Linked DNA regions of Homo sapiens: region 1 is linked to region 2. Evidence: fine-mapped expression QTL. A gene starts in region 2. The other region holds a variant in brackets. All regions are shown on one strand. Distances are between the middles of the regions. Region 1 holds the start of LOC124903292 (a long non-coding RNA gene). Region 2 holds the start of NFATC4 (nuclear factor of activated T cells 4).

Evidence for each region. PIP is the estimated chance that this variant, and not a neighbour inherited with it, causes the effect.
Region 1: its variant is the best candidate, but not a certain one, in a credible set for the expression of NFATC4 in whole blood (TOPMed, PIP 0.65).

What each region holds. Positions count from the first base shown.
Region 1 is chr14:24,387,471-24,391,850 of GRCh38, forward strand. LOC124903292 (a long non-coding RNA gene) reads right to left here and starts at 1,939. Exons shown (of 3, transcript XR_007064086.1): 1 at 1,675-1,939. The variant A/T (reference allele first, on the strand shown) is at 2,143.
Region 2 is chr14:24,365,505-24,369,832 of GRCh38, forward strand. NFATC4 (nuclear factor of activated T cells 4) reads left to right here and starts at 2,680. Exons shown (of 10, transcript NM_004554.5): 1 at 2,680-2,936; 2 at 3,995-4,328. The coding sequence starts at 2,837. It overlaps LOC124903291 (a long non-coding RNA gene), which reads right to left and starts at 3,881. Exons shown (of 2, transcript XR_007064085.1): 1 at 3,743-3,881; 2 at 12-1,023. RefSeq lists silencers at 1,111-1,420, 3,139-3,518.

The DNA of each region.
Region 1 (4,380 bases), 22 kb after region 2:
TAGGTAAATTTCAATTTTATTTTATTTATTTATTTATTTTTTTTTGAGGCAGAGTCTCACTCTGTCACCCAAGCTGGAGTGCGATGGCACGATCTCGGATGACTGCAACCTCTGCCTGCCGGGTTCAAGCAATTCTCCTTCCTCAGCCTTCCTAGTAGCTGGGATTACAGGTGTATGCCACCATGCCTGGCTAATTTTTTTTGGCATTTTTAGTAGAGGTGGGTTTTTGCCATGTTGGCCAGGCTGGTCTTGAACTCCCGACCTCAGGTGATCTGCCCGCCTTGGCCTCCTAAAGTACTGGGATTACAGGCATGAGCCACTGTGCCCAGCCTCAATTTTATCTTGTGTTGTTTTTGTATTATTTTCTCCATCCTCAAAACTCGGACACTTCCTAACTTAGCACCCATTGGCTACTGCTCATAGTCCTGCCTGGTTTGGGGTTTCCCAGTTTGGGGTGGATCTGGCTACACTTCATTTTCTGCCTCCATCGAGACTCCCTATTGTTTCTTTGAGGTTCCATTAGGTCAAGGCAAACACTTCTCTTGTTCTCCCAACATGTAGCAAAATGTCACAATTCTTTTTGGCTCCGTTGTTCATTAGCCACTCCATTTCGTTATTCTATTTGCACTACTTCATCATTGAGCAAACTTTTTTTTTTAATAAGGATTTGTGATGGTTAATTTTATGTGTCAATTTGGCTGGGCTAAGTGATGCCCATAGAGCTGGTAAAATATTATTTCTGGGTACATCTGTGAGAGTGTTTCTGGAAGAGATTAGCATTTGAATTGGTAGACTAAATGAAGATCTTCCCTCATCAATGTGGGTCCACATCACTCAATACATTGAGGGCCTGAGTAGAACAAAAAAGTAGAGGAAGGGCAAATTATCTCTATTTGAGCCCAGTCGTCCATCTTCTTTTACCCTCGGACATCAGAGCTCCAGGTTCTTGAGGGAAGGGCACACATAGATTAGTGTTTTCTGCACAATCAGTTCACTCACTTCTCCTTGTCTGACCCATGAATGTGTCCGTATCTTTTGAGGTTCATTGGTTCAGATGCTACAGACACCACCCTTCCCCAGGCTGCTGAAATGACTTTCAAACTTGGACTGAATTACACTACTGGCTTTCCTTGTTCTCCAGCTTGCAGTCAGCAGATTGTGGGGCTTCCTGACCTCCATAATCACATGAGCCAATTCCCATAATCTCTCTCTCTGTCTCTCTCTCTGTTTCTGCTATTGGTTCTGTTTCTTTGGAGAACCATGACTAACACAGGATTATAGAAACTGCAGGAGAAAATGTTAGTGCCTGTTGGGATTAGAAAGGCACATACGATAAAGCCCTATCCTCAAGGCTGCTGCAGCTGTGATAGGAGCTCCTCTTACAGCTCCATTTATTTGTTCACAAAGGATTTACTATGTGTTAATTATCAGGCAATGGTAGGCACTCAGGATACCAAGATCAACAAGATATGATTCCTGTCCTCAAGCAGTTCACACCTAAGAGATCACTAACTGGTGACTTGAGGCATTTGATTGGCAAGATGCCTTAATTATTTCTCTTTGTTATCTATGGCTGTGTAACAAATCACCCCAACTTAGTGGCTTAAAACCACAATAATTTACTTTTCCTCACAGTTCTGTGGCTTAACCTGGTGATTCTCCTCCTGGTCTCACCTGGGCACACTCATGTGGTTGCATTCAGATGGCAGTTTAGCTAGTTGGTCCTAGACAGCCTCACTCCCAAGTGTGAAGCCTCAGCTGGGGCGGCTGGAATGGCTGAGATGAGTTTCCTTCTGTCTGCCCATGCGACTTCTTTCTGCCGGTATCTCAATTTCCTTCCTTCCGGCTATCCTGGGCCTCTTTACACAAGAACAGAGCATTCCAAGAGGCTCAAAGTCAAAGTTGCAAGACTTTTTGAGGTCTCGACTCAGTGTTACAAATGTTACTCCCACTGCATCTTATTGGCCAACACAAGTCACAAGGCCAGGCTAGAACGGGGAGGAGGGGGAATAGAATTCATCTCTGATGGGGGAGCAGCAATGTCCCATTGTAAAGGGTGGGCAGATAGAGATGGGAGGAATTTGTGGCCATAGGTTGCAGTCTACTACAGCTGCTACAGCGAAACAAAATTAGATTTCACAT[A/T]AACGTCAAGTTTACAATATTTTTTCCTTAACAATGGGGAGATTTGGCAACAAGCCACTGGAGCTGAGTAACTGCTGTGCCATTTAGACTGGACGTTCTATCTCTAGCCCATCATAGTCTCTACCACTTCTTTTTTAAAGAGTTGGGTTCTTGCTCTGTTGTCCAGGCTGGAGTGCACTGGCATGATCATGGCTCACCGAAGTCTCGACCTCCTGGGCTCAAATGATCCTCCAGCCTCAGCCTTTAGAGTAGCTGGGATTACAGGCACTCACCACTCCAGCTAATTTTTTTTTTTTTGGTAGAGGTGAGTTTTGCTTTGTTGTCCAGGCTGGTCTTGAATTCCTGGCCTCAAGTGATATCCTCCTGCCTCGGCCTCCCCACTACTGCTTTATTTATTTATTTTTTTAGATGGAGTTTTGCTGTGTTGCCCAGGCTGGAGTGCAGAGGTGCGATCTCAGCTCACTGCAACCTCCGCCTCCCGGATTCAAGCGATTCTCCTGCCTCAGCCTCCCGAGTAGCTGGGACTACAGGCATGCGCCACCAGACACAGCTAATTTTGGTATTTTTAGTAGAGACAGGGTTTCACCATGTTGGCCAGGATGGTCTCAGTCTCTTGACCTCCTGATCCGCCCGCCTTGGCCTCCCAAAGTGCTGGGATTACAGGCGTGAGCCCCCGCCCCCACCCCCACCTATCGCTTTTTAAAGGTGAGGAAATTGGGATTTCCAGGGCTAGGATGTAGTAGTCTCTGGGCTACCGATATCAGAGTCTGTTTTTAACTACTGTATTCAACTGCCATCACCAAATGGGTTCTATGGATAATTACATGGGAAACCACTGCTGGGGAGTTACTAGAAAAGTTTGAGTAAGCTCATGCCACAGAGCAAGTGATGCTCTTCAATTAACTAGGAGTCTGGATTCAGAGCCAAATAGGGGTGAGGGAGGCGAATGGTCTGGTGGCTGCTAGATCAGTTTGAAAGTCATTTCAGTAGCCTGGGCCAGGGAGGTGTCTGTAGCATCTGAACCAAATGAAACTCAGAAGATATGGACACATTCTTGGGTCAGACAAGGAGAAATGAGCGAACTGGTTGTGCAGAAAATACTAATCCAAGTGTGCCACTTCCCTCTGAGAAACTTTGTAGGCTCCCTCCTGCCTATACCTGCCAGTCTCAGTGGTAACACATTGTTCTGTTAAAAAAAAGAGGCTGTAATGTAAGCTATGGACTTCGGTTGTTAATGTTGGGTCAATGTTGGTTCCTCTATTCTAACAAAAGTATCACACTGGTGCAGGATGTTGATAGTGGGGGGAGGCTGTGCACATGTGGGCACTGGAGGCATATAGGAAGTCTCCTTTCCACTCAGCTTGGCTCTAAACTTAAAACTACTTTAGAAATAAATTCTATATACACAAAAAGTGGAGGAGGAGGATGGTTTCTGAGGTAAGTTTAGGAAACTTAGGTAAATAAGTTGATTTTTAAAAAAACTGCGGGGCTTACAGCATTGCTTTTACTTCATAACAATATAGTCACAAAACATAATTATGCAATTGCTTTTTTCAACTTTGGACGCAGGCTCCGTGACAGCAGGGCACTTACTCATTGATGTATCGCCAGCACCTAGAATGGTTTGGCACATGGTGGACACTTCTTAGTACAAGGAAGAAGGGAGAAACAGTCAACTCGCAGGACTTAATGATTGACTGGCTGAGAGAAGTGGGGGGCAGTTAGCTTCAGAGTGGCTTTGGTTAGTCATAACCTTGCTAGAGACTTCCCAGAGCTCCCACTCCCTGTCCTTCTCTGCTTGACTACTAATGGCCTGAGACCCCTCAGCCTCCATGGGACCAGCTTTTGCCCTCACCCTGCCATCAGTGGCTCCTAGGCATGTGCCCTTCATCCACCGTGCTCACTGACCCTCCTTCAGCCCTCCAGCCTCCTGCAGATACTCCCCCCAAAAGCCCCTTCCGCACAGCTTGGAAGCCCAGCCCAACACCCTTCGAGCCCTGAAACATTGTTGCTCCTGTTTTTCTCTTCATGAATCACCCGAAGTGCAGCAGTGCCTCATGGTAGTAAATATAGGTAAGTGTTGGAACCACCAGGGTCCTCTGGTGTCCTTGGGCAGCCAAGGAGTAGATCCTCCTGAACCTGCCCCCAGGCTTGTTTTAAGAAGGGCTGGAGGCCGGGCGCGGTGGCTGACGCCTGTAATCCCAGCACTTTGGGAGGCCGAGGCGGGCGGATCACGAG
Region 2 (4,328 bases):
GGCATACAAAATGGTGGACCATCAAGGTTTACTACATATTTTTGTATAGCTTGAATTGTTTACAAGAAGAATGCATATTAATTAGCTTTATTTAGACCTCTGGGGAAAAGAGAAGACTGCATCTTGTGTAATTAAAAAAAGAAATAAATAACATCCACCTCCAAGGAAGTTGAATGATGCTTGTTAAAGTGCAGAGCAGAAGCCACCAACCAAGGTAAGAAAGCCGGGTTGTGCTCCGGTATGTGCGCTAGGAGGCAGCGGAGCTGAGACCGAGGCCAGGCGGCTAGAGAAACCGCGAACCAAGGACGGGGGGGCTGGGTCTTTCTGGTCGCCAGGGGGCAGAAGTGTAGGGCAACTTAAATCCGCAACTACCCGCTGTTGCCCAGGCTCCAACGCCAGGCCGAGCATTTCAGAAGTCATAAGTTCCATCTCTCTGCCGCAGCCGAGACAGATTGGAGGGTTTTCAGAGTCAAGGGGATGCCCCCCCGCCCCCCGCCTCAGAGAAGCTTGGCACTCTGAACAATCTCAACCACTCTCCCCTCTGCTCCTCCCTTCCCTACCCCCCAACACCCATGAAGGGGAAATTGAGTCATGGGAGGAGAGGCCAGAGTCATCAGGGGAATGAGGGCCGACGCCAGCCCTCAGGGCCTTCCAGATGCTAGGAGGAGGAGGGTTCTCCAGGAAAACAAACAGGGGTGAGAGGGGAAGGCGGTTGGCTGGGCAGGAGCTGAGCCAGACACATGGAGAAACGCTGCCCAGGATCAAAGGAAATATGACATTTGAAAAGAATGTGTGCGTCTGCATGTGCTGTGCCTGCGGGGAGTGGGGCCGGGGAGGGGCAGAGTCTGGGGGAACAGGGGCTGGGCCTCGGGGTCTCTATCCCTGCTTTTCTCGCCTCCGCTTCCCACCTCCCTTGCCCTCTTAGGTACAGGCTGGTTGATGGGTCGAGGTGTTCCTCGTCCTCCCTCCCCGTGGGTTTCTCCTTCCTTTATTTCCGAGATGAAGCTGGAAGGGAAATGTAACCTGAGGAGACCAACCAAAGGAAAAAAAAGAAAAAAAAAAGAAAAAAAAAAAAAAGAAAGAAGAAAATCAAACCAGGCCGCTTCCCCGCTCGGCCTCGGAACATTCTTCTCTCCCCGCCGGCCTGGGCTCTTCTCCCCGCCCCTCCTGTGTTGCGGCCCTGGGCTCGGAGCCGGGGCAGCTCCGCACGTCACTGGGGTCCCCGGGGACTGGGGGGGTGGTCCCCTGGGCGGGCCCGAGGGAGGACCGAGGGGAGGGAGGGAAGCCGCCTCGGCCGCTGCGGAGCTCCGGCCCGTCGGGCCAGCCCTCCCTTCTTTCCCCAGTCCCGTAGAGCCTGTTTCTCATTAGAGTAACGGGCGCGGTCCCCGCCCGGCTTCTGAGTGTTTGTAAACGTCTGACCTGGGGCCGTCGCTTAACCGTTTAGTTGCTGGGATGGGGCGGCGTTGGGGGTGCGGCCCTGAACCGGAGGGATTTAGAGACTGGAGACGCGGCCTCTAAGAGAGGTTGAAACTGTGTGTGTGTGGGAGAAAATGATAACCACCCTCCCATCTCTCCTACCCGCCAGCCTCGCCAGTATCTCCCACCGAGTCACGAATCTCCCATCTAACTCCCTCTCACACAACCCAGGCCTCTCCAAGCCTGACTTTCCCGGAAACTCCAGTCCAGGTCTTCCTTCCTCCTCCAGCCCAGGTGACAGGTGTCCAGCCTGTTGGGGGCGGGGGGGCCAAGGAGGGGGAAGAGGAGGGGAACCCACAGGGTCCGGAGGTTTCAGGCCCCTAGTAAACCTGGCAAGGATTTTTAGAAGAGCCGGAGTGGGATGCTATCGGGTCAGAGATTCATTCCAGACTACAGTTCTAGGGAGGAGGCTGCCAACTTCCCGTGGAGGCTAATTCACGGCCCCTCTGGGTGGCTGGGACAAGGGCAGCGGCAAAGCCTGGCCTGGATCTACGCCCATCAAGGGCTGTGGGCCTAGGGACAGTTCTCAAAGCCTCTTTGGCTCGGACTGCTCCCAGAGGCATCCAGGCTGGCTAAGCGTTCTTCATCTTTGGGGGTCCTGGAGGAATGGCTGATGGAGGCGCTGATTCGGCAGCGCAAAGACTTCCAGAAGGCCCGGGCAGAGTAGCCCCAGGCAAGGGAGGCGGAAGAATAGCCTTTTCCTCTTCCGAGCAACTCGGTGCCACTCTGCCCCCAGGACCCTCCTGGCCTCAGGCTTGGAGGGAAAGGGGAGGAGAAGTGGTTCTGCCTTGCTAGGTGCTATCTACACAGTCTTCAGAATTTAAAAAAGGGTCTTCCGTGGGCTCTCTACCCTGGGGGCCCAGGATGTGGCCCCTTTAAGGCTCTCGGACCCAGAACCTTGAACTGAGACTAGGGGAGGTGGGGGCTGGGCTCTCTGCGGGAAATGATTGTCACAACGGCGGACCAATAGGCAACATTAGTATCACTCTTGAAGGACCGTTTTCCAATTCAGTTTTTTTTTTTTTGAGGGGGAGGGACTGAAGAGAGGACAGAGGGAGGGAGGGTGGGGGAGGACGAGGGGCGCGTGGTTTTCCCATCTCATCCCTGGAGGAGGGGCTGGAGCATCCCCGGCAGCCAATCAGGGACAGGCTGGGGGGGGGACCGCTTTGAAGAAGTTTGGGGGAAAAAAGTTTGGAAAAGTTTCTATAATAACGAGGGGGCTTCTGGAGGGAGGCGGCAGCGACGGAGGAGGGGGCTTCTCAGAGAAAGGGAGGGAGGGAGCCACCCGGGTGAAGATACAGCAGCCTCCTGAACTCCCCCCTCCCACCCAGGCCGGGACCTGGGGGCTCCTGCCGGATCCATGGGGGCGGCCAGCTGCGAGGATGAGGAGCTGGAATTTAAGCTGGTGTTCGGGGAGGAAAAGGAGGCCCCCCCGCTGGGCGCGGGGGGATTGGGGGAAGGTTAGTGCTGGGCTGGGAAGGGGTCTTGGGGTCAGTGAGAGGAGGGCCGGGGATCCTGAGTCTGGGGAATTTAAGGCAGCGAGCCTAGGGTGGGGGGTGAGGGAGTCAGAGGTCGAAGGGAGTCGGGGGGACTCGTTGGCCTGCGGAAGTGAGGCTGGGGGCCCGGGCACCACTTTCTCCTTTTTAGGTCGTGACTGGGGTGGGGGTGGGGGTGCTGTTGGCTGTGCGCCGCCTCCCGGCTGGGCCGCCTGTCACTGAACTGGGGGGCGGGCGGGAACTACGGCCCCAACAGCACCAGGCGCCGCCAGGGGAAGGGGAGGTTTGGCGCTGGAGCTGGCCCCTGGCGGACCGAGCTCTGGCCCGGCCGACTGGACGCCCGGGGCTGGGGGCGCTGTCAGGCCTCGCTGGGGCGCCCCTCCCCCTCCCCCGTCTGGCCGCAATGAGAGGCAGATGGCGGGGACCGAGCCGGGGGCGGCGGCCGCCGCTCGCACGAATCCGCGCTGCCCGCTGCCCCCCTTCCCCCGGCTGGGCCCAGCACGCATCACCCCCTCGGCTGCACCTCCGCCCCTAGATGGCGAGGAGAGAGGGAGGAGCCACCTCCCCTCGTCACCACAGCCCTGACGCCCCCCTCCCCTCTGGCCACGGTTGCGATGGCAACTGGGGCTCCTGCCAGCGCCGTTTGGGGGTTTGGGAACCGCTGCTAATTGGGTTCATGTGTGAGTCGCCCCCAGTCCAGCCCAGTGCCTCAAGAAACACGCCTCCAGGCCCAGCCCCAGCTCCAGCCCCTCTGGACCCACCTCTCTCACCTTAAGACCCACTGGATCGGGTACCCTCGGTCCTAGGATCCAGGGGCCAGTGGGCAAAGGCCTGGCATGCCTGCTTCAATCTCCTCCATCTTCCCAGGTCCAACTCTGCTTTTGTCTTGTGGCTCAGAAGGTCTCTTTGCTGAGGGGCAGGGAGCATAGAAGGACTTGCGGCCTGGCCACTCAAGGAACATAGCCATCTCACCTGCTTCTCTCTTTCCCCCTCTCCCTCTGCTCCTCTTCCCATTTTGACAGAACTGGACTCAGAGGATGCCCCGCCATGCTGCCGTCTGGCCTTGGGAGAGCCCCCTCCCTATGGCGCTGCACCTATCGGTATTCCCCGACCTCCACCCCCTCGGCCTGGCATGCATTCGCCACCGCCGCGACCAGCCCCCTCACCTGGCACCTGGGAGAGCCAGCCCGCCAGGTCGGTGAGGCTGGGAGGACCAGGAGGGGGTGCTGGGGGTGCTGGGGGTGGCCGTGTTCTCGAGTGTCCCAGCATCCGCATCACCTCCATCTCTCCCACGCCGGAGCCGCCAGCAGCGCTGGAGGACAACCCTGATGCCTGGGGGGACGGCTCTCCTAGAGA